Regions from separate parts of the Homo sapiens genome. Here regions 1, 2, 4 and 5 are each linked to region 3. The links come from fine-mapping of genetic effects on gene expression. A gene starts in region 3. Each other region holds a variant in brackets. All regions are shown on one strand. Distances are between the middles of the regions.

What was found.
Region 1: its variant is fine-mapped to the expression of ELMO1 in whole blood (TOPMed, PIP above 0.99).
Region 2: its variant is fine-mapped to the expression of ELMO1 in T cells (TOPMed, PIP 0.98).
Region 4: its variant is fine-mapped to the expression of ELMO1 in whole blood (INTERVAL, PIP above 0.99).
Region 5: its variant is fine-mapped to the expression of ELMO1 in blood mononuclear cells (TOPMed, PIP 0.96). The same link has a PIP of 0.9 or more in whole blood.

The regions. Positions count from the first base shown.
Region 1 is chr7:36,819,462-36,824,593 of GRCh38, reverse strand. It overlaps the pseudogene NPM1P18. Among named protein-coding and RNA genes, the nearest start is that of MIR1200, 97 kb to the left of the region's middle. The variant T/C (reference allele first, on the strand shown) is at 3,122.
Region 2 is chr7:36,873,963-36,879,094 of GRCh38, reverse strand. ELMO1 (engulfment and cell motility 1) reads left to right here. Exons shown (of 22, transcript NM_014800.11): 19 at 978-1,085. Among named protein-coding and RNA genes, the nearest start is that of MIR1200, 43 kb to the left of the region's middle. The variant T/G (reference allele first, on the strand shown) is at 3,146.
Region 3 is chr7:37,446,142-37,451,141 of GRCh38, reverse strand. ELMO1 (engulfment and cell motility 1) reads left to right here and starts at 2,278. Exons shown (of 22, transcript NM_014800.11): 1 at 2,278-2,467. RefSeq lists silencers at 2,529-2,578, 2,589-2,638.
Region 4 is chr7:37,413,914-37,419,045 of GRCh38, reverse strand. All of the region lies in intron 1 of ELMO1 (engulfment and cell motility 1), which reads left to right. Among named protein-coding and RNA genes, the nearest start is that of ELMO1, 32 kb to the left of the region's middle. The variant T/G (reference allele first, on the strand shown) is at 2,269.
Region 5 is chr7:37,389,042-37,394,173 of GRCh38, reverse strand. The region is part of intron 1 of ELMO1 (engulfment and cell motility 1); the gene reads left to right. Among named protein-coding and RNA genes, the nearest start is that of ELMO1, 57 kb to the left of the region's middle. RefSeq lists an enhancer at 1,556-1,665. The variant A/C (reference allele first, on the strand shown) is at 1,919.

The DNA of each region.
Region 1 (5,132 bases), 630 kb after region 3:
CCCGCCACCATGCCTGGCTAATTTTTTGTATTTTTAGTAGAGACAGGGTTTCACCATGTTAGCCAGGATGGTCTCGATTTCCTGACCTCGTGATCTACCTGCCTCAGCCTCCCAAAGTGCTGGGATTACAGACATGAGCCACCGTGCCCAGCCTTAACCAAGTTTTAACAAGGGTGAACAATTGGTCATCTCCTTTATAAGTCAAGAGAAATTTGTAACACCTGGGAAAAGAACAGGCCAAGGATGGGTATGATACAGGAGTCCCCAGTCCCTGGGCTGCGGACTGGTACTGGCCCACAGCCTGTTAGGACCCTGGCCACACAGCAGGAGGTGAGTGACGGGAGCGAGCATTAGAGCCTGAGCTCCGCCTTCTGTCAGATCAGCAGAGACATTAGATAAATTCTCTTAAGAGCATGAACCCTATTGTGAACTGTGCATGCAAGGATCTAGGTTGTGTGCTCTTTATGAGAATCTAACTAATGCCTGATGATCTGAGGTGGAACAGTTTCATGCCCTCACCCACATCCGTGGAAAAAAGTTGTCTTCCACGAAACGGGTCCCTCATGCCAAAAAGGTCGGGGACTGCTGCTTTAACACAATTTCAGACAGAATAAGCCAGGGATTAACACCAGAGTTTATATCTATTTGTTTCTTATTTATTGTATACGTATATGTTTTCTTTTTTTTTTTTTGAGATAGAGTTTTGCTATTGTTGCCCAGGCTGGAGAGCAGTGGCACGATCTCAGCTCCCTGCAAACTCTGCCTCCAGGTTCAAGTGATTCTCCTTCCTCAATCTCCCGAGTAGCTGGGATTACAGGTGTGTGCCACCATGCCCGGCTAATTCTGTATTTTTAGTAGAGAAGGGTTTCTCCATGTTGGTCAGGCTGGTCTCGAACTCCCGACCTCAGGTGATCAGCCCGCCTCGGCCTCCCAAAGTGCTACGATTACAGGCGTGAGCCACCGCGTATGTTTTCGTTAATTGTTTGGGTCTAGATTTTCTCAATGAGTCCTTTGGTTATCTCTATCCAGTCTGAGCCAAACTATTCCTCTGAGAATTGTGCCAGGTGGTTCTTAGCAGACATGGAGAGTTAAGATTCCAGGGTTAAAATCAGCTGTATACTTTCCCTTCCAGAATTCTATCTCAACAAAGCTCATTTCTTCCTAGGAGGATGCAACCAACTCCAATGCTATGCTACCACACAAATCCTTCTAAAACAGTTGCTAATTTTTAATCAACCAAATTTATATATTTTGAATACAAATTTTCTTTTTAAAAATATCAGATGGCATTTAAATATTTATTTCCTTCAGTGTTTCTTTCATTGATTTGTTTCAGAAACTGACAAGAACTTGTTGTTAATTGTGTTTATGAGTTTCATAATGAATAATACATTGTTTTTGACAATGATAATTATATTTCTCTATTTATAGAAAGCGAGTGCAAAGAAAAAAAAAGCAGTCATTTCCATATCCTCAATTATTTCATCTAACAATGCCTTCACATTCCAAAGAAGAGCTGTTTAGTTAGATTTTTAAAAACTTAATGTCTGCTTATGGTTTCCTTAACGAATTCCATTACTTTCGGTTGTCTCTTATCTTTTCTTGTAAGCATCACATTATTTACTCTCTTGCTGCTTACAAGCCAGTCTACATCAATATGTATGAATATCTCTCTCTTCATTTTGGCACATGTAAGAATAAGCATATCTTATTATGCCCATGAACACACATACACATGCGTGCAGACACATGTACTCAGACACACATGACGTACTTATGTGATCACATGCAGAAAGAATTTGTCTCCCCTAATCAAACTTGGAGTCCGTACAGTACAATAAATTAGCAGGGAAAAGTAGGCTATTGTTATTTGATCTTCTCCAACTCCATATACCATACATTTTTAAAATTTAGTTTTTAATCAAAGTTATACATGCATACTTATACAGTCAAATTGTTTTACCAGAATTATTACCAAAATCAAGCTGAACCAAAACAATAACCTGCTCCCCACCTACAACCTCAAGTTTCCATTCCTAAAAGGCTACCTTTGCAGCTTTTTAAACTATTGCTCTTGTTTTTCACCTGCGTATCAATAAATAACATATGATTTTTAGCACTACTTGTGATTTTCAGCATTAGGCAGCATAAAATGACTTCCCACTATGGAAGATAAGGATTTAGCTCTTTTTTACTCTTTGCCCCACCATTATCACATCTCCTCTCTCTCTCTCTCTCTCTCTCTCTCTCACACACACACACACAAACATTTCTCTTCCCCTCAAACTCCAGTTATACTTATGTCAAGTTTTTGATAAATTCAATATTTAATATTAATATTATAACTGTACAAATATAAATGCTATTCTCAGTTGAGCCACATAGGATATGCACAACTATTTGTTTTCTGCGAAATTAATAACTGGATTTTTTTTTTAACTGACTTAGTTTGATGGTTGATTTTATGTGTCATGTTGACAAGGCCATGGGTACCCAGTTATGTGGTTAAACATTATTCTAGCCATTTCTGTGAGGGGTTTTCTGAATGAGATTAACATTTGAACCTGTGGACTGAGTAAAGCAGAGTGCCCTTGCTGATGGGGTGGGCCTCATCCAATCCATTGAGGAAGTGAATAAAATAAAGAGGCTGAGAAAGGGAAAATTTGCTCTCTCTATCTTGGAGCTGGACCACTGGTCTTCTTTTGCCCTCAGACTTGAACTTGGACTGGAACTTACACCATCAGCTCTCCTGATTCTCAGGCCTTTGGACTCAGTCTGGAACTCTACCATCAGCTCTCCTGATTCTCAGGCCTTTGGACTCAGTCTGGAACTCTACCATCAGCTCTCCTGGGTCTCTTGCTGAATACAGATCTTGGGACTTCTCAGCCTTTGTAACTGTGTGAGTCAATTCCTTATAATAAATCTCTTTATCTTTTCATCTTTCTCCTTTTCTCCCTTTCTTTTTTCCTTTTCTTCCTCCCTCCTTCCTTCTTTCCTTCTTCTCTCTCATCTATCGTCCATCTATCTATCTATCTATCTATCTATCTATCTATCTATCTAATCATCTATCTATATCTATCTATCGTCTGTTTGAGTATCTTTCTATCCATCATCTCTCTTA[T/C]TGGTTCTGTTTTTCTGGAAAACCCAAATGAATACACTTAGTTTCATTTATATTTGCTCAGATTCTTCCACAATCTTCAATATCTCCTCTCAATACTTTTGAACACATCAGGAGCAAAATATCCTCTTCTCACAGATATTCTCCCAGAAGCCACTGAACTGGTTGTGCTCTATCTTCCATGCACAGTGGGCGTCTAGGAACTTCCTTCACTATCATCCTAACCCTTTCCAATGTATCTCCTGTTTCTTGGATCCCATGGCTTCTGCTTTCTTGGTTTTTACCCTCATTTTGGATTTTTTAAATTGAGATAAAGATCACAAAACATAAAACTTACCACTTTAACAATTGTAAACTGTACAAGTGGTTTTTAGTATATTCACAATGTTGTGCAACCAATACCACCACTATCTAATTCCAGAATGTTTCATCACTCCCAAAAAGAAACTCCTTACTAATTAAGCAATCACTCCACATTCCACTCTTTCCCTAGCCTTGGGCAATCACTATCTAATTTCTGTTACTATGGATTTGCCTATTTAGGACATTTCATACAAATGGAATCATACAATATGTGTCCTTTATGACTGGCTTTTTTAACATAATATTTTCAAGCTTCATGCATGTTGTAGCATTTATCATTACTTCATTCTTTTTATGACTGACTCATATTCCATTGTATGAATGCACTAACTTTTTTTTTATCCATTCATCAGTTGATGGGGATTGGGTTGTTTCTACTTTTGGCTATGATGAGTAATGCTACTATAAAGGTAGTGTTAGTGTACATCTGTTTTTAGTTCTCTTGATAGTACCTAGGAGTGGAATTGAATTGCTAGGTCATATGGTAACTCTACATTTACCCTTTTGAGGAACTGCCAGACTTCCATAGCAGCTGCAGCATTTTGCATTCCTACCAGCAATACACAAAGGTTCAAATGTATACATCCTCACAAAAATTTATTTTCCTTTTTTTTCTTTATTATAGCCATCCCAGTGGAAGTGAAGTGGTAACTCATTGTAATTTTGATTTTCATTTCCCTAATGATTAATGATGCTGGGCATCTTTTCATGTGCTCATTTGCCATTTGTATATCTTCTTTGGAGAAACATCTGTTCAAGTTCTTTGCCCACTTTTAATTGGGTTGCTGTCTTTTGTTTTTGAGTTGCAAAGTTGATTTAAATAGTCTATTATTAGACCCTTTGTCAAATATATGACTTGCAAATATTTTTTCTAATCTGTGAATTGTCTTTTAACTTTATTGATAGTATTCTTTGGTGATGCAATTTTTAAAATTTTGACGACGTCCAATTTACCTGTTTTTTTGTGCTTTTGATGTTATATTTTAAAAAGTTACCTATCCAAGATCACAAAGAATTACATCTACATTTCCTTCTAAGAGTTTTATAGTTTTAGCTTTTATATTAAGTCTTTATTCAATTTCAAGTTAATTTTTTTCATTCAAATATTTATTGAGCAGCTAAGGAGATACAAACGTGATTTAAAACATGGTCAGAGGTGAGGCAAATGCACAAGTAATAGAAAGCAAAGGGCAAGGTTCATTGAATCACAGCAGTCAGAAGAAAAGTGCTTTGGGGAACCAAGAGTGACATGGTTTCCAGCCTGAAGAGGCATGGGTGGCAAATCAGAATAGGGAATTGAGATTAAAATAGAAAACTTTAGTCTGGATTGTTGATGACACTCAGTGTGGACTATATTTGTCTCTCCTTTTTCTCTCTCCCCACCTTTGGGCTTAATTTACTAGTAGTCCCCTGGACTGTTCAATATGCTTTTTGTATACTTGCTTGCATTTTTGCTTTAATGTCTTCTACAGAACTAGGTCCTTTAGGTGTTTTAGGAATTTTTTCCTGTTTTTTGAAGGATTCTTGTCCTTTTGATCTTGGTGTTGATGGTTTTGAGTCTTTTCCATTCTGATTTGACTTTTGTGCATTTTTGGCTCGAGTATCTTGTATAGATTTCTTCACGGGTGCTTTTTCTTCAGTTTCCTCATCA
Region 2 (5,132 bases), 570 kb after region 3:
GTCTGTAGCAGATAATGGGAAATACTAAGGTGTTAACATTAGGCTCCAATATTGCCAGTCCAAGCCAAACTGGTGGTGCAAAGAAGACTGTAGAACATCTCAGAGGATGGGGAGAGGCCCTTCGGCTGCAGGGATAAAGAGGGCTTCCTGGAGGAGACAGCTGCACAAGCATTGCTGTCACAGTTCAAGTCCCTAACCTATAAAAAGTGCTCTTTGCCTCTTTCTTCCTGCCTCATAGACTTACTCAAAATTTCTTCTCACTTTTGAGAGACTGAGGCAGTAAAGTTGAGGAAGTTGTTTATAAGGATGACCCTAATCTCCTGGTCATACCTATCCAGAGAAGTAAATTCTGGGAATTGGAGAGGAGAATGATTGTGCATGTCCCCATTCTTTGGCTAAATCCGTGAATTATTTAGATGATTTCCTCATGAATCCCACCCACCATGTGTATTACCAGTGTCCTAACAATTCGTTCATGATTAATGTGCGTGTGGTAGCCTAGGGTAGGGGTTTGTTGTATCAGCTAAAATCTGGCCTTGGACACAACTGTCTCAACAGTCTGAAATTCTCAGAGAGGAAAGTGGAAGCAGAAACATTCTGAGAAATCTGTTTTTTTTTCTATATCTCCCTCCCTCTTTTGTCAGTAAATGAATAAGGAGCAGTTCCCATGGTGGTTATCATTAGTGATAACATAACCTCTGGAAGCCACCACCTCATAAAATCTATTGCTATTGAGCTTGAAGAGTTCAATGACTTTACTAATGGTTACCAAATGTATACCAAGCAGGACAGGTGATAACTAAATATTAAAGTCAAAAGGGAATTTATTGCCCAGGGCCCTAGAATTCATTCTTCCTCAAGACTTAAAATCAAATGAACTGCTTGTTTCCTCCAGGCAAGAGTATTAAGAAATAACCAGGCTAGTATTTTGATAAACCACAATCACTTACCTTGTAAACTTGTGTTTTTTCTCTCAGACAAGTTTTGGTATTGTCGGCTTTCGCCAAATCACAAAGTCCTGCATTACGGAGACTTAGAAGAGAGTCCTCAGGGAGAAGTGCCCCACGATTCCTTGCAGGACAAACGTAAGTAGCTCTCCTTGGCAGAGGCCTGAGTGGTGGTCGGTTGGTTGTTTCCTAGTCACAATATATCACGCAACAGAACTATCAGCCTAAGTAAGCCCTTTGAACACATCTCATCTAGTTGTAAGTCGTCGCCTGAGCCATCTCATCAAGTACAAGACCTGGATGGACTTGGGGTTTGGAACTGAATAGGGGAGAATGTAAAATGGATGCAAAGGTATCTTAATTGAAAGACGTAAACTGGGGGTTCAAATGTCCACTTTTTACATTATTTATCCAGGTGCTGTGTCAAGGAGCAAAAACAATACAAACCTGATTCTGTCAGCTGTCTTTTTCTGAAAACCCAAAATAATTTCTTATTTTCGTAACTTATATGCCTGACCCCTACAACATTTATTCCTTACAATTTAGTGTATCCCATAGTTATGACACAGAGTTAATGGCAGAGCCAAATATAGCTAGTTTACCTCAAAGACACTTTGAAAATGATGATCCGTTACCTCTACTGTTTGCTAAATATTTCTCTTGTATATTTTTTGGCTTTTTCTATATGTTGTCTGTTTTAACATACATGCTTTTGAAGAGACAGTAATGTGCAGGATTCTTTTAGCCCCACAGGGAACCAGGTGCCAGGTTGACAGTGTTAACAATACAAATTAAACAAGTATTATAGAAACACTGAAATACACAAGGGTGATAAATTAATTTGGAGGAGAAATGAGATAAAATGAACGTAGCCTCAGAGGATATCCCAAGTAGAAAAATCCGAGAGGGAGAAAACATTCAGAGCACTTTTAAATAACCTTTAAAAGTCACCTTGACCTTGCAGTGTTCAGATAAGCGTGTCCCAGACAGTGTCCTTACCCAGAGTCTCACACCTTCTGTCCTGTTACCCTGGGGCCCATGGAAGTCAAATCTGGATTACCTTCCTCACAGCTCACGGCCATTGAAGGTGAAAATAACCCATGAGTGGGAAATTTCCTGACACATTCAGACTCTGCGCTGACATCTCAGGCAGATAGCCTAGAACATTCACTCTTCCTCCAGCTTAAAAATGGGACAGTCTGGTCTTTGTGATGTCACTTAGTTCAGAAAACGATCTTGTTTTCTTTCATAGGAAAACTTTCTTCCCAGCCCACATTATTGGCTCCCTAAGTCAGGGGTTATAGAAAGAAATCTGAAATCCACTGCTGCAGAGAGCCTGGGACATTGTCTATGCCTCCCTGCTTTGGGGCAGGAGTTAGGGGTGTCCTGGGCCTCTACCTGTAAATGAGGATCCTCCTTTCACAGTTCCAGCCTTCCCCACCCCACCTTGGCCAAGCTAGACCAGCGGTTCTCTAAACGTGGTCCCTGGAACATCAGCAGCAGTATCACCTAGGAACTTCTTAGCAATGCACATTCTCAGACCCCATTCCCAGCCCTGCTAAATCAGAAACTCAGTGGGTGGGGACCAGCCATCTCTGTTTTAACAGATGTTCCCGCCAGTTCTGACATGCACAAGTTTCAGAACTGTGATTCCCCAAATGTGGCTTTCACTAATAATTTTAAAAAAACAAAAAGTTTAAGTAAATTAATAGCATGTTGCTAACTTTTAACTTGGGCCAAAAAAAAAAAAGGATATTAAAAAATAAAATCTAAAGTTTAATATCACAACCCTTTCATAAAAGAAAGGACCCTCGATTACAAGAAAAAAAAAAGTAAGAAGGACCTAATCTTAGATAAAAGACAGTCCCTTCTGCTAAACTAAATTAGCCCTCTGAAAAACTCACACCAGCATTCTCGTTTTTCTGCATTTGCTATTAACTGGTGAAAAGCTCACTGGTGTAAACTCCCTTGTGAACTAGGAACTGACCAGAGCCCAGCGATGTGGAATCACTGCTCTGCAGTGGTTAAACAGAAAGAGTTGAGGTTATTGTTGGTTGAAGCAAATAGCAGCTCCCTAGGAGGTCCCCCACAGCCCCATTCTTAACCTGTCACAAGGGGAAAAGTGGTCAGGACAGAACAAACACAGCTTGACTCCCCATATGGTCCAGTGAATCTGCTCTCCCACTAACAGGACATAG[T/G]GTTTAGCCCCATGTTTATAGGGATGTAATCACTTCTCAACCCAAAGATAGGCACTTGACCGACAGGTTTGCCAGGTGTTAGCACAGCACCCCCATGCTAATTGGCCAGCTACCTAGGATATTGGCAGCCACAGCAACAAAGCCTTGTGTAGGGGCAGTTCCTGGTCTTGCCCACAAGCTAATGCCCCCCAGCTCTGCTAAGACCCTCACCCCCAAGACTCCAGGGTGAAAATAACTAACCTGGAACTAGAGGTGCTGATGCCAGGGAGAGCCAGCTTGCCAGGGTGAGTGCAGGAGAGCAAGGCCAGAGCTGCAAATCTCCACACAGCTTTTCGCAGTGGCCACTGAGCAAGGCTGGTTCTTGAAGGGATTGTGACAGCCCCTCCTGACCATGCCTCCAAAACTCTTAGCAACTGCTTTCCTCTGAAATGAAGTTCCAAAGAGCTGCTCCAAAAACAGTATATCCATTGCAAGATGAACTAACAATGCATACTTGTGTGGATCTATTTATCTGCACAAGTATTTATCCACACCTTGTGGGAGAGTGTGTGTGTGAGAGAGAGAGAAAGAGAGTGTGTGTGTACTAGTAAGACTGTATCCTTCTGCACATATGTGCTAGAGAAATGGGTATACTCATGTAATGAATTGAAATGAAGCAATACTGTGCCTGAGACAAAAAAAAAGCCCGGCCTAATAAGCTGAAGTTTCTTGCTGCAGGCCTGCCACCTTGGTTTGCATTTAATTCCAATTCTGCATTCTGCCTGGAGCAAAATAGCCACCTTTTGGAACTCTTAAAAGTCAGAAACCTCATTCCACTGGAAAAATGAGACGTGCTTTTAATTAATGTTCAGTGTCATTGCTCTTGCCACATAACATTGCCCTCTCTTGAGACCAAGGCAGAGAGTGTCTTGTGCCCCTTGAGTTAATCCGTGCTGAATACTGAGCTATTGATAAATCAAATAGTATAATGGAGTTTTCTTAATACAGATAGTGCACATGAGGATTGAGGGTGCCTCCTTGGCTGTCTTCTCCAAAGCTTTAGGAAATCTTTCTTTTTGTATTCCTTTTCTTTGTCAGGAAATTTGGCCTTTGAAAATCGACATCTTCTTACATCCCCCCTCTCCCCATATCCCTCCCAAGCTGACTTACAGGTTGTCATAGCCCCCAATAAACATAGGACCCCACTGCTTTCCAGCCATGCCCTGGGTTCCTCACTGCCTCCCTTTGAAAGAATCTAGGCCAGCATTCCTCACTCCCACATCAGAGGGGGCAGGGAGGAAAGTTCTGGCTCACCCTGCCCATGTGGAGATGAAGCCTGCTCCAGTGGATGCGAAGAGCGGCGACACAGGGAGGCACTGTGGGCAATTTGGGTCACCAAAGCACAGCGAATAATTCAGGTCTCTCCATCTACAGAATTAACTCTGATTATTGATAATGGGAATAATTGCAAATGGCATTTATTGAGTGCTTACTATATGCTAGGCCCTGTGCTAAGGGCTTTACATAAATTATTCTCAACAACCTAAAGAGGTAGATAATATTGTCCTTATTTTACAGAAAGGAAACTGAGATACAGAAAGATTAAGTAACTTATTCAAAGTCATAAGATTAGTAAATAGTAGAGAAAGATCTGAATGTAACTGTCTAACTCCATGGCCTAGATTTTCACCCACTACTGTGTACTGCCTAGATTAAAAGCCAACAATGATCTCAGCTCCAGCATCAGGATTTAACTCTCAGAGCAACCATATGGGATAGATAATGTTAGAGTTACAAATTGCAGACAAGGAAGTTGAGGCTCTCAAAACTTAAGCCCAAAGTAGTAGAGGCGGTTGGTGGATGTAGAATTCAAACCCTGGCACTCTGATTCCAAAGGCGCATCTTTTCCCCACCATTCCATGCCATGTGGCTGATCTGCTAGGCCACAGAGACCAGGTTCTTCATGCAGCTATCCTGGGATGAGCCTGTACCTCCTCATATTTCTGCC
Region 3 (5,000 bases):
GCTCCTTAGTGGGATGTCATGTGGCATCTTAATATTTTAATGTAATCCATGGATATGGGGAGACACTGGATGCCTGAATTAAATCCTAAGGGACTTAGAGAAAGTGGATCAGGAACTTTGGTTCCAAAGATCAACTCCATGTTCCCGCACATGGCCTAACCGTAACACTGTAAAGAATTTCCAGTCTTCCCCTTGCACTCCTATCAACACTGAGATGTATTTGAGAAAAAAAAAAAAAGAGAGAGAGAGAGAAGATCTCAGGCTGTATTGTGTTTGCTAATGGTTAATTACGTAATTAATCTATAAGACTACTTTTTTTTCTTTTTTTCTTTTTTCTTTTTTTTTTTTAAAGGGCAGAGACAGATATTCTTCTGGGAGAAGATGGCTCAAATGAGAGAGACTTGAAGCCATGTCACATGAAGAAGAGTCAGAATAATTGAGGATGGTTAATCCTCAAAAGAGAGTGTTTAGGTAAAATTTGAGGGCTGACTTCAAAGATCTGAAAGACTACTTCATGGAGGAAAGATGTGAAGACCCGGGACCAAAGGTTACAGGGGAGTGGATTTGCATAATTGCTGTGCAAGGAGGGAACAATTATGACAGCTAATGTTTACTGAGTGCTCACCACGCATGCACTAAAGTTAAGGTCTTTATATGCCTTAGCTACAAGGTTGTAGATCAAATTCATACTTATCACTACAAGTGTCTCAGAGCATCGTTAGTAAAGGCTCCATTTACTGACTACTTATTAAATTACTTCATTTAATAGTTGGTGCTATTGACTTTTGTTATTATATCATTACTGTTTTATAGATGAGGAAATACAGAAGTTAAGTTGCTTTCCTGCAGTCACCCTGCTTTAGTTACTGGCTTATAACCATCTGGACCCAGGCACTCTTGATACTAATACTGCCTCCCAGAGTCATGCGTATAATAAGGAGTTAGATCAGAGCTGTTCATTAAAAGTATAAGGTGAGCCACTAATGAGAGCCTATGTGTAGCCTTACATTTTCTAGTAGCTACATCAGAAAATGTAAAAAGAAACTGGTGAAATTAATCTTATATATGCTTATATCTTAACCCAACACATGACGAATCCAACTGACTTACTACATCAGACTATTCTCATGTATTGCAATAATGTAATCAACATAAACATACTTAACAAGTTAGTTTACATTCATTTTAAAAATACTGAATTGTATGTCTGTTTTACACTTACAGAACATCTCAGGGATAGCCACATTTCAAGTGCTCAACAGCTGCCTGTGGCTCTTGAGGGGGAAGATCTTAAAAGGGAGCTTAGTTTTCCACCTTGATTCTGATGCCTCCCTGCCCCCGACTTATTTCCTTTGCCAATTAGAAGAAAATGCCGAACTGCCTTTGACTTTTCCGGTAGAGCCAATGTAGGTATTTCTGAACTGGGGGAGGACAGGTGGTTCGCCTGCAACCCTCTTCCCTCCTGCCAGCTAGGCTGGGAGTTAACGTTTTTGATTTCTGCTTTGAAAATGATTTAAGTAGGTTGCATGAATTAAGTAATTTATTCTAAATATCAAATTATGGGTGGAACGTCTTGCCTTATGCAAAGTTATGCAAAATTAGGAAGTCCCTGGCTTAATTGGTTAGAAATACATCTTGTAGTTTCAATTGCAGGGTTAGTAAATACATAGATGTCGACGGAGAGGGAGGAAACTTTTTTTTTTTTTTTTTGCCACTCTGTCCAAGGGTAGAGGCACAGCGTCAAAACAAACACGTCTTAAAGTAGCGTTCAAACAGCCCACCGAAGTTTCCCCTTAATATCCGGAACCGGTTGCCAAAAATTAAAAAAGGATGTGAAAAGATGCTACTCGCTTTTGGCCTCCCGGAGATGGCGCTATGAGGGTGACGGAGTTAATTAGTGCCTCCAAACGCCGTGTGTGAGCTCATCGAAGTCATGCTCTGCACACATATTATTTATAGCAGATCTGAGGCATGCATGGTGTTTGACATTTCTGTCTTTTAAGTAGGGGGACTTCAAAAAGTCGTGGGCATCCCCCTAGGCAAAGTGCAGTGGGCAGGGACCAGGCAGGGTGCGGGCGCAAGGCGAACGCGCAGACCACGAGTGTCCTGGCGCAGGTGCCGGGGGCGGCGGCTGCAACTCCGCAGCGTCCGCTCGGGAGGAGAGTTCGCGGCTGATCTCCGGATGCCTTGCAGATGCAAAATGTGTCTCTGGCCAGCAGGAGGAAGGAAGAGGAAGTGAGAGCAGCGGCAGCCGGCGGTGCAGCAGCCGGCCGACCCAGAGTGTAAGTGCGTGTGCTGGGGCGAGCGGGAGCGGGCGAGGATGGGCACAGGATAGAGGCAGAGCCACCCACGCCGCCGCGGCCCCACGCTGGGCGACAGAGCCTCCAGTTCCCCTTCAATGGTGGCGGGTCGCCGGAGCTCTGATCGCCGGGAACCCTTGCCGCTGCTGTCCTGCGACCCCAAGCAGGTTCGTAAAGTTTCCTGGGCTGGCGCCGCGCCCCGACTCGCTGACCTCGGCGCGGCAGGGGAGGGGGCCGGGACTGGGGCCGGGAGGAGGCGTCCTGCTCCGGGGGACTCCGGGCGCCGCGGAGACACTTTTGTTTCCTCCCTGGGGGCGCCGCGGCTCGGGCGGGGGTGGCCGCCGCGCTCGGCAGGGTGAGGGCTGCGGGCGCGTCGGGGCGCTCTGCAGTTGGGGAAGTCTGAGCTCCGGGGATGGCGGGAGTGGGAGTGGGAGCGGAGGGAGGGGGCGCTGGAGGTGCGGCGCCCGCGGATGAAGCGCAGGGCCCGGGGCCCGGGAGCCCGCCGAGACATTTCGACCAGGGTCTGCGGGAGGGGGGGCGCGGGAGGGTTGCGACGCTGGCGCGGGGTTACTGGGGACGGGGGATGTGGGGCTGGGATCTTGGAGTCAAGATTCCTATAGAGCTAGAGAAGCGGCTGCGGCTCAGACTCGGCGTCTTCTCCTGCACTCGGGGATGGGAGGGAATCCCCCGGCGAGCGCGCTCGTGGGAGGGGGCGGTGATGGGCCAGAGGAATGGGGGCCAGGAGGGCCGGAGAGGGCGGTCTGGGCAGCCGGGAGCCCCTGAGGTTCTGGTTAGTAAATACTCTCCTCCCGGGGACACACCGGGGTCTCCGCCGAGACCGAGAGAGGCGGCGGGGAGCTTTGTGGAGCTTCGTGGAAATCTCGGCTTCGGAGAGGGGACGCACCGGGCGCGCCTTCAGAGAAGGGGGCGGCGGCATGCCAGGGGGCCCGGGAATCGGAGCGGAGAGTGGCGACTGCGATCGCCGGAGTCGCTTTGAGGAAGAGGAAATACAGAACTCAGCTGTCCCGGGGGTGCGCGCGTGTGTTTGGGGTTGGGAAGTCGGTGCTGTGCCGCGAGCGCGCGCGAGGCGGCGTGTGTGTGTGTGTGTGTGTGTGTGTGTGTGTGTGGTGTGTGCGCGCGCGCGTATGTATGTGTGTGTGGTGTGTCGTCGGTGTGTGTGTGAGTGTGTGTGTGTGGGGGGGGTGTTGTGGGTGTGTGTGTGAGTCGGTGTGTGTGTGTGTGACCGCACAGCCAGGAACTCCCCGCCCAGTGACCCTCTCCCGCCTAGGGGGCCATTTGAAGTTGGAGGCGGGTCGGGACCTGCCTTGACCTAAAGGACCAGCCTCAGGCTTGGTCCCAGGTAGTGACCCAGCTCTGAGAGTCCCTGGACGGCTCCCGAGACTCAGTGAATATATTTGGGATGCCCCCCGCGCTGGATCATGGGCTTCCCAACACCGCTGGCCTTGAATGATTCGGGCCTAATTCGTTATGGTTAAGATTTCAGATAATCTAAGACGGGTTGAGGCCTCCAGAAGCGGAGGCTTCCTGTTGGGCGCTGCCAGTGACTTGGGGATGAAGCTATGGAAGAATATCTGAGTGTTTCTCTTTTGCTTCTATAAAAGTAATTAATGACCTGTATTTACACACCAAAACCCTGCGAGCAACTTTGGGACATAGAGGGATATAATCCTTCTCAGAATCACTTTGAGATTGCAAAAACCGGCAGCAGCTATTATTGGGGTCTCCTCTGGCCAGGGTTCTCATATTATCTCACCTCCATGCCTACTTTCCAAGGTTGTTTCAAGCATTAATGTCCCATAATTTACAGATCTGGGGGAAAATAATGGTAAGTTAGGAGGCCAGATCCCCTGCAGAAACATCACATATTTTTAATTTTTCTTATAGCTGACCTTTTGAAGCTTTACTCTTTATTATTGTACATTTCCTATCTCTGGAAGGCTGTGGTTAAATGTGCATGCTGCCTTGTTTCTACTCTGTTTTGTTTGTTTTTATTAGGTTGGTAAATTTTGAGAAAATGACCTGGACTGCTGGGACTCTTGGGGAGGGGTTGTGTCAGGAGGGTACTGAACTGGAGAACAAGAAGTATGGTAGGTATCAGGGAGGGGCAGGCTCGGAGGCAGACCCGGATGGGAGTCTGGGGAAACTCAGGGCCTGGAGCAGTCATTGGGCAAGAAGATGGGCAGTTCTAGTGATGGTCATGCTTACTGTCCTTGGTAACTGCAGGCACCCTCACCGTCTTACATTCTTCTTTTTCACTGAGTTCTCTCCCTAGGGCCTTTGCCCATGATATTACAGGAGGAGCTTTTCTCCCACATGTCCAGATGACTCACTTCCCCTGCTTCTTTCAGGTCTCTGTCCAGTTGTCAGCTTATAGGGGGCCTTCCCTGGCTACCCCATATAAAATAGCAGCCAGACACTCCCTGGGCCTCTTATGTTACTCAGTTTTTTGTCTTAGTACCTTTTACTCCCTGGCATTATACAGTCATTGGTGTATTTTGAGTATTGTCTCTCTCCCTGTTAGAGCAGAAGTTCCATGAGGGTAGTGACTACCTTGTCTTGTTTACAGCTCCAGAACCTGGATGGATTCTTAGCATGATGTCGGTGCTCAATAAGTGTTTGTTGACTGACTAAATGAGAGGTGGCTATACTGGGAGAGATCCACCAGGGAAATATACCAGG
Region 4 (5,132 bases), 32 kb after region 3:
TCCTGGGGGGTAGGAGTGGGGTTATGGGGGAGTCTCTAGGACCCTGGGACCCAACACTGGAGAGATCTCAATCACGCTGGGTGCTCTTCTTCCCTCGACTCATGTTCCGTAGCTGCTTAGTCTTGTTGCGAGTACCCGACTCCTAGCCTCTGCAGCACCCTGAGAGCTGGGCACTTGACTCTTACCATCCCCATCTCGCCTCACTGCCCCTTCACTGCAGAAGCTGCAGTTTGCCTCCCACGCTTAACCTGATGACTGACACCTCCTTATAATACCTGCGAGATGACTTCTGTGATTCTGCCTGCCCGCATCTGTGTGTTTCTGGATTTTCCATCTCCACGCTTGGCCCTGCCTGAGACTTCTGCAGGTCAGCATCTGACCGAGGTTATCTGAGCTGACTCTGACGCATCCATGGTGTTGCTATTCACCAGATACAGAGTTGCACTGGCACAGCACAGTCCCTTCCCACTACTGAAGCTCTTTCTCCTTGCCAGAGGTCTTGCTCACCCCAGGGGCCTGGGCAGATCCAGTTCCAGATTCTGGAATCTCCCTACGGGCCTTACCTTATTGCAATGTACTGGGCCAGGCCACCAGATATTGCACTTTGAAAATCTGTTTTGAAGTTGCTAACTGCTTGGAGTACTGTGGTGCTGCAGGCTGCTGTCAGGGGTAGAGGTATGGGGAGCAGAGATGCCTGAGCTGATCTAGAAAATACTTAGGGGTAGAATGCTCTAATGTGAAAATTAATTTTAAAAAACACACTGTTAAAGACAGTTCAAAATGTGCTGCACTTTCTATCTGTAGCAATCTCAAGTCCAGAAAAAGAAGGTGGAATGAAAATTTTGGTTTCTGTCTCTTAGCAGATAGGTCAGGTCAAGTGGAAAGAAAATGGAGGCAGGAAAGAGTAGCTGGGGAGAGCCTGCAATGTTGAGTTTGTTTCCTGGGGCTCCCTTAACATCTTTTGATGAACTGGGTGGCTTAAAACCATGCAGATTTGTTCTCTCACAGCTCTAGAAACTAGCAGTCCAAAATCAAGGAGTTGGCCTGAAGGTTCCAGGGGAGGGTCTTTCCTTGCCCCTTCCAGCTTCTGGTGGCCCCAGGTGGTCCTTGGCTTGTGCAGTATCACTCCAAGCTGTGCCTCCATCTTCATATGGCTGCCTTCTTGTGTGTCTGTTTTTGCATGACGTTTTCCTCTTTTGTTTTTGAGACAGAGTCTTGCTCTGTCATCCAGGCTGGAGTGCAATGGTGCCGTCTCGACTCACTGCAACCTCTGCCTCACAGGTTCAAGCGATTCTCCTGCCTCAGCCTCCCGAGTAGCTGGGACTACAGGTGTGTGCCACCACACCCAGCTAATTTTTGCTTGTGTGTGTGTGTGTGTGTGTGTGACGGAGTCTTACTCTGTCTCCCAGGCTGGAGTGCAGTGGCGTGATCTTGGCTCATTGCAAGCTCCGCCTCCTGGGTTCATGCCATTCTCCTGCCTCAGCCTCCCGAGTAGCTGGGACTACAAGCGCCCACCACCATGCCCAGCTAATTTTGTTTTTGTATTTTTAGTAGAGGCAGGGTTTCACCATGTTAGCCAGATGGTCTCGATCTGCTGACCTCGTGATCCTCCCACCTCGGCCTCCGAAAGTGCTGGGATTACAGGCGTAAGACACCGCGCCTGGCCAATTTTTGCATTTTTTTAGTAGACATCTTCCTCTTTTTATAAAGATAACAGTCCTAGTGGGTTAGCACCTGCCCAAATGACCTCGTTTTAACTTGATTATGTCTGCAGAGACCTATTTCCAAATAAGGTCACATTCACAGATAGCAGGAAAGGACTTCAACGTGTCTTTCTCAGGGGACGCCTTTCCATGCATAACAGCTGCCTCTGGTCCAGTCTTTCTATCCCCTCTTCAGTGGTGTGTCCACCAGCAAAACTTCTGTGCCTCAGTTTCCTTGGCTGTAAAACGGTGCCCTCTTCTAGGATCGTTGAGAGAATTAAATGAAATCATGCTTGGCAGAGTATCACGCTCATAGAAAGTGCTCAGTAGGGGTTTAGCTTTTACAGCTAGTTGCTTGCAGTCATTTGATTTCATAAGCTAGGTTTGTGGAGAAACTGAGGAAGTGAATGAGCCAAACACAAAAGTAAACACTGTTGATAGGACAGGTGGTTAACTCTTTCAGTGCCACAAAACACATTCTGACTCACCTGCACACAAATTTTGCTTACAAGATTGTTGTCAGCACTAATTTTGCTCCAAGTATTTGCTTGATTAAAATCTCTTA[T/G]GCTACTCTTTGCAGCTGACCTATAACAGAAATAAATGAACTAACTAGAGATACTTTCTTCGTTGGGCTTCCATCTAGAGCTAAGCTTTACTTAGGCTTTCAAATTGTAAGCAAATGCAAAATAACTCTCTTGGGAAAATTCCAGAGAATCTAGGCCTTGAGCTGTTGTAAGCAAATGTGGCCCTCCTTTTAGGGCGGGAATCTAAGAAATGGAGATTATGCATTATCCAGTTCCAGGGGCATCATTCATACTGTGGTCTGTGCGTGTGCATGGACAAGCCTGCTCCTCTGGGTGAGGTGGCCATAGGTCCTTTCTGGGGTTCAGTAAGTTCTGATAGTGGCATTGTCATGGTGTGAAACCTCTCATTCTCCCAGTTTAATTATTCAGTGAGAATGGGATTCCTGAGATTCTAAACCATATTCCATAACTTTGGAAAATATATGTGTATATAAAATTTTCCATACGGTTAAAACCTGAGAGTGGACTGCAAGTCAAATTGCTATTTTCTTCCCTGCTTCGTCTTTGTGAACTTCGTATTGTCAGTTTTCCTGACAGTTGACAAAAGTGGGCAGTTTTGGTGGCATATCTGATTTAGGAAGTAAGTGCAACAATTTGAAAGCCTAAGTAAAGCTTAGCTTTAGATGGAAGCCCAATAAAGGAGTTATCTCTAGTTAGTTCATTTATTTCTGTTGTAGGTCAGCCGCAAATCTGAAAACACAGGTTTGAATTTGTATGCTCATTTAATGTTACTGATAATCTGAAATGCTGGTTTTTAGGACTGTAGATTTCATTATGGAATATGTTTTTAACTTAATTTGTACATGGGTCTCTTGTTGTTTTGGGAATTTTGTTCTAAGACATGTTGAAGCTGTGCTGTAGTTATTGGGTTTATGAGTTGTTGGGGTATTATTTATTTTTAATGTACTCTGTTCCTTCCTCTTCCCAAAGCAAATAATCAAGAATTAATGTTTAACTTTAAGTTGGATCCACTCACTTTATATTGAGAGTTATTATTACTTTAATTCACGTTTCTTTTCCCTGAAGCCCTGATATATCTTTGGGAAGATACATTTTTTCATGCATTAATTATTTTCTTTTCCAGTATCAATTGCAGATATTACAATCACAGCAAGAAACATCTGTTGTACCTTTATTATGTGCCAGGTACTGTGCTGCCTGCTTTATATGAATTATTATTACGATCATTAAATTTTTATATCCACGCTAGACTTTACATACTGTCTATCATAACTCACATTTTATAATAAGGACTTGAGACTGGGGAAATAAACTTGCCAAGTCGACACAATTTAAAAGTGGTAGAGCCAAGAGTTGAACTCACGTAGTCTCTGACTCTGGAACTATGCTCTTAAACCCTACACTCTTGATGTTGAAGATGTAGGGACATCTTTGCATTTGAAGACAGAAATGCACATACAGCCCAGAACTTTTCAGTGATTCCAAAGACCTCTGTATTTTCACGTAACATAACTTTGGAAGCCACAGATTCGCTTTGCTCAATCTATTTTGTTCAGGAGTACATGCATGCTAATTTGCTCAGGCAGTAGCTGAAAGCAGTGAGAGATATTCCAACAAGGCTCCAGATTGCAAGAGAAATGAGTGTGGATTTAAAAATTAACAGGCTTTGTATGCATATAACTAAGAATCAGCTTACTTGCCATGAAGATGAGTACCAAGGCCCCAAAGTATGTATGTCAGAAGGTAGGATATTACTTGGTTTTGTGTAATTGGTAATACCAAGGTCAAATCAACTTAGATAACTGGTTTAAACCATTAAATAGCTTTTTTGGCTTTAGATATTTCTCAAGATTTTTACTGCAAGCTACGTGCATTGCAGTCTGCAGGAAGAAAAAAAAGGATTATTAGTGTTTTTGCAATGTTCCTGCCCAGCGTTTACTTCTTTATTTGCTCTTGTTTTATTCCCACAGGGAAAGGTTCATTGTAACATACCCAGGGATGTGTGGTAGATTTTTCCAATGCAGCAGGTAGAATGACTTTGATGGTAAGAAACAGAAAATTGAATGCCGACTGGCTTAAACAATAAAAGCTTATATCATTGAAAAGATTAGAGGTATGGTGAGTTACAGAATTAGATTGATTCAGCCACTCTCTGGGTCATTTAGGGTTTCTTTTTTTCTGTCTCTGCCAAACAGGATTGGACTTTGGAGTTGGCCACAGGGCAGATTCCCCCAACACACCAGCAGGGTGGCGATCAGAGAATGCCAGAACAAACATTAGATAATTTTTAAGAAGAGTGACTTGGTGTATGTGTGCCCCAACAAGTATCCACCATAGCCAGTGACCTGGATATGCTTAATTTAGATTAATGAATTTATCCGTCCTCTCTCTTCTCCACCTTGTAGGTGTTAATATTCTACATGTAATGTACAGGGGTTTTCCCCCTCGGATATTTTTGGTGAATATTTCTGTAGTTGTCCCTAAACATAGAAAGATTTTCCAGCAGGATACTAAGAGGTACTGTTTAGCATATTTCAATTTCCCATTACCAATCCCACAGACCTGATAAGATATGGATGTTGGCTGCTAATATCAAATAATGTTTTCTAATTTTCTTAGTGGAAAATGAATGGAATGAATCATTCAAATGAATTCCATGATTCATTATGGAATCATTCACTCAATATTATTTTGATATTAAATGATATTAATTATATTAAAATATTATTTTGATATTAAAGTGGAGGTAAATTGACTTCTGTCATATACCTTTTCACTTTGCTACTTCACAGTTTCCCTCTGTTCTTGCCATGCTGAAGTGGCCTGGTGTGGTGGCTAACATCCCTAATCCCAGCACTCTGGGAGGGCGAGGCAGGCAGATCAC
Region 5 (5,132 bases), 57 kb after region 3:
TTCTCTCCTTTGGGGCAGGGTATTGTCCAACATTATATTAGTGTCCCTGGGCCTAACAGGGAGAGGCTCCCCATAAATATAAGTGGCATGAATGAATGAATGAATGAGTAAAAAGGGGGTTATTTCTTGCATCAAAAAGTTAAGGCAGCTTACCTCTACTTAGCTATGGAAAAATTGTGTGAGTAGGACTTAAAGTATTCTGCTATTTGTCCACAAACCATATCATCTCTCCTTTCCACCTATTTATCCCATCTAGGGGGCAGAGCAGGGAGCACTTATACCATACAAGGCAGAGAAGATACAGATCAAGATATGCCCAAGGCCCTTCTAGTTCAGCCTCTCCTTGGAGTAGGTAGGCCAATCTTTATGGGCTTGTGGGGATCTGAGCATAAAAAAGCAAGCTGAGGAACAAATGAACAGTGATTTTGGTTTTTGGATAAACCAAAACCAGGCACCGCTTGATAGCAGGCAAGGGAAAGGCTGCAGCTTCACTTTTCTGTGATATTTCCACCAAAAATGCATAACCTGAATCTAATCAGTAGCAGCAGCACCAGACAAACCCAAATTGAGGAACAAAATAACCAGTCTATAGTCTTCAAAAGGGTCAAGGGCAGAGGAAAACTGAGGGAAGCACTTTAGAATGAAGAGACTGAAGAGACACAACAGCTTAAAGCAATGTGTGATTCTGAATTGGATTTTTTTTAAATAATGTACTATAAAGTACTATTATTGGGACATTTGGTGAAATAATTTACTATAAAGTACATTATCGGGACATTTGGTGAAATTTGAACGAGGTCACAAGGGCAAATAGAATGTGTATTAAATGTTAATTTTCTGATTTGAATGCTTGTGTGGTGGTTATATAGGAGAATGCCATTGTTTGTTGGCAATCTTCACTAAGGTATTAGTGGGTGGTGAGCCACTGGGTTGGCAAGTTACTCTCAAGTTGTTCAGGAAGAATGAAATTTATTTATATTATATCTGCAATTTCTTGTGAATTGGAGATTGCTTCAAAATAAAAATTTTTAAGAAAGAATAAAAATTAATGAACAAGCTTAGACTTTTCCTCATGGACAAGTTGCCCAGGAGAGATGTTTTGTATTATGTCCTGATGGAAATGTGTGCAGAAGTGGTCTTGGTAGACCTTGGAATGAGTTGGGGGTGGGGAGGTGGTGAAGCCAAGGGGCACAACCAAGAGAAAACCTGCATCCTTTCTCAGCAACCCTCAGGAGGTGGCCTTAAGTGCAAACAGGCTCAGAAGACAGCAGGCTCCAGGGGAGCACAGTTACCTCCCAGGGCAGATGCAATTAGCAGGTTTTTAGTGACTGGGGAGCCAGAGGCCAATTTGATGATTTACTGTAGGAAATATCATCAAGACCACTGGTACTCAGACTAGCAGATTTCCTCCCTGTAGGCAGACGTCAAGGGAAGGAGTTGTAATCAGGAGAGCATTTGGTAAACATAGAATCACAGTGAGAAGAGCTAGCCAGTGTGATCAGAAAGTCCAGAGGCCTCCAGAGTCAGGACAGCCCCATCTCTCCATTCTATAGGGAGGCCTCACACCTGGCAGCAGATGTGGAAGAGAGAGGCTAGAGTGGGGCTGCCCTCCCTTGTATAGAGCTGGGGTAGCCTAGCAGCGCCAATTTGCTCAGATTTCATGGTTGGCCACCTCTGCTTCTGACTGACGTGCTCATGCTTTAGATATGCGAATGGCCTCAGCTAGGTTGTCACCAAGTTCTGCCAACTGCAAAGCCCCATGGACTCTCGAATGGCTTTGCAGATCTGGGATCTTGTGTTCCTTCTTTCTGGGTTGGTTTTATACGTTAACTGTCAGAGGCATATGCCACTTTATTCAGGTTCCTTAGAGCTTCTCCTTGCTACCCTGTACTGCCTCAGAGACCACTGGCCATGTGGG[A/C]ACTTGAGTTAGAGATATGCTGACCTCTAGAGTAGCAACTTCCCTCTTTCTGTTTTGTTTTGTTTCGAAGTCTGGAGCCACATCAGAGGAAGGAAAGACTTTAAAAAAAAAAGTTTACCATCCTGGAATATTTTATTATCTCTAGAGTTCTTTAACTTCCCCGGGTTGCAGACTTCCTTTCGAAATTTAGCCAGAATATCTATATTTCTCATTTGAGAACAGTGTGTCTCCCTGCTGGAAACTCAAGTTCTTCAATTTCTGGGTGCAAAGTCCACGCAGGGCCATTGCATGTGTGTGGAGATTACAGTTCTCTTTCTACAACTGAATGCTTTCTTAGGGGGGTACACACACTTCCCTACAGGCTTTGCTGCTCTTTCTTGCACAGATGGCCACTTCTCCTGTAGGCCTTCTGGGTACTTAGCCCTGGAACCTGTGGTCCCAAATCGTTCCTTGTATAAAAGCCAGCTCTTCCCTGGTGAGTGTTACATGGGGGCTTGCCCAAATCTTGAAGCTCTTGAGTAGCAGAGGCTGTTTCTGAAGAGGTTCCTGAAATCAGGAATGTGGCATGCAAGTCGGCCCCCAACTGGGGTCTCTGGATGGCTCAGTGGCTAGAGACCCACCATGAAGGTGTGGGTCCTTCCATGAGTAACGAAGGCCGTGTGCACCTCCTGGTATAAACTCTGTTTTCTTCAAAGAATTTTTAGAGAGGAAGTACATATATAGACTGGCTTACACTGGTCGAACATAAGAGTCCTCAACTTAGTGTAATTTTATATTTTATATTTTGTCATAATATTATAAGGCCTTGCACACAAATGCCTTTATAAATAACTACTTCTGGGCTGGGTGCGGTGGCTCATGCCTGTAATGCCAGCACTTCGGGGGGCCGGGGTGGCAGATCACTTGAGGTCAGGAGTTCGAGACCAGCCTGGGCAACATGGTGAAACCCCATCTCTACTAAAAATACAAAAATTAGCCGGACATGTTGGTGGGCACCTGTAATTCCAGCTACTCAGGAGGCTGAGGCAGGAGAATCATTTGAGCCCGGGAGGTGGAGGTTGCAGTGAGCTGAGATCGAGCCACCACGCTCCAGCCTGGACAATAGAGCAAGACTCTGTCTCAAAAATACAAAAGAAAGAAAGAAGTAAAGAAAGAGCGGTGGGGGGAAAGAGGGAGGGAGAGAGGGAGGGAGGGAGGAAGGAAGGAAGGAAGGAAGGAAGGAAGGAAGGAAGGAAGGAAGGAAGGAAGGGACTACTTTCCCAGAATATACCTGATTTGGGCTTGATGTGAACATTGAACCACTTCCCTCTATCACATATTCAGTTGGGGATGGGAAACAGTGTCTACAGGGTCACCAGGTCAATTTGGTGTCCTGCCCCAGCCACCTGTGTGCCCTGGCAGTTGTCTATAACCAGATTGTCCTCTCATCTAAAAGTGCAAACTCCTGATAAGCTCATGGCCCTCAACACCTGGTGGATAGAAGCAATAGCATGGGGGCTGGGGGGTGGTAAGCACCTATAAGTCTCAAAGAGCGGAGCCTTGGTTTCCATTTGCAAACAAACCCATAAGCCCTATATGAACTCTGACATTAGTCTTTGATATCTGTTTGATTTTTTTACTGGGTCAGGGACTGTGATGAGTCCTAACCTAGGGGACCATGAAAAGGATTAGAAATAGAATTACTGGAAACACATGCTATTCAAAACAGGTAGGGCCTGAGTCTGCTTAGGAACCTGTAGCTTTTGCTTTTTTTCTGTCCCTGGGCCTCTGTGCGTCTGGGAGTCAGAAGAAAAAAAAAAGGCAGAGTGTAATAAGAAATGTGCTCCTTGGGGCACCCTACTGACCTGTGTCTTTGTCAGTCAGATTTCCTACTTGATGGGAGGAGTTCTGCCACCCTCCACTCTGCGAGACCTTCCCTTGCACAGTGAGTGCGGGCTTCATGTGAAACCGTTCATACTCCATGCAAGTGGCGCAAGCCTGACAGCTGTGAAGAAATGCTTCTTGGGTTCCTGCTCAGTTAAGGGGCTGACTTTATGCTCATAGCGACAGCTGCAAAATACAGATTTAGGGTGGAGGCACCAGGTCTAAATTCCAGTTACCGTTTGTGTTTTTAAAAAGTCTGCATTTTTACGTCCATGGTGCAGTTTTACAACTTGCTGCTGTGATAGCCTATACACAGACATTTCTTGTTCTTTTGATTTTTAACCAAATGATTTCTGGAACCAGAGCATGGGTGACTTCTCAGGGGATGAAAGCGCTAGAGAATCTGAATTTCAAGAGGTGGGATAGGGAAGGCTATGAGATTTTGGAAGTTGGGCAACATGGGAGAGACTGTGGGAAGCGTGCCTTTCTGCTTACGGTGATTAATTTTTGTTTCAAAGAGCAGCTCTCCCTAATGAGGGTTGCACATGCTGGAGAATTAGTAAGAATCTCGGGGGATGCCCGTGCTTCATTCTTTACGCATACCCCTAGGTAGAGGTGGAAGTATTTGGTTCCCCTACACTCCTGACAGCCTATTTCCTATGGTTAAAGGAGAACTGGATTTCCCAGCAAAAGCTGAATATCAGGGTCTGGAGAGTCCTGTGTCTCCCTACTACCTGTGACCAAGCTATTATTCCTGCCTCTTCATGCTCCACAGTGTGGCAGGATGGAAGGTTTGTCTTCTACCTGGACGATTCGAGACTCTCGCTTGCCTGAGGTGTTTTAGCAGTGGACTGAAGTGTACACATTTCAGGTGACAACTTCATTGCTTCCGCTAGAGGAAATAGACATACTGGTCTACATGTGCATCAACACAATGGAGGGAAAAACACTCAACTTTTTAAAATAGACTTTTAAAAACATTACCAAGACTGCTTAACAAAAAATCCTTTTGAACTTGGAAAGTCCTTTCTTCCATACATAAAGGAAAGGTTTTATGTGGCTGTTTTGCTTAATGTGGGCTGGTTTTATTTTGGACTCTTTGAAACCCAGCGTGAAGGCTAAAATTCTGCTCTGTGGAAAAGTCAAAATGAAAGGAATTGCCGGGTTTGGGTTGTGCTGAATTAAAGTGACAAGGTACAGATAACAGGGCACAGCCATGCCCACAAATTAGCCCTCTCTAATTTGCTGCTGTGGAAAGTAGTGCTTTGGTGTTGCATTGTTATTTCTTTCCTTGAATTAAAGTTTAAAAAAGAAAGCCTAGTTTGCTCAAAGGAGGAAACCGGAAAAATGT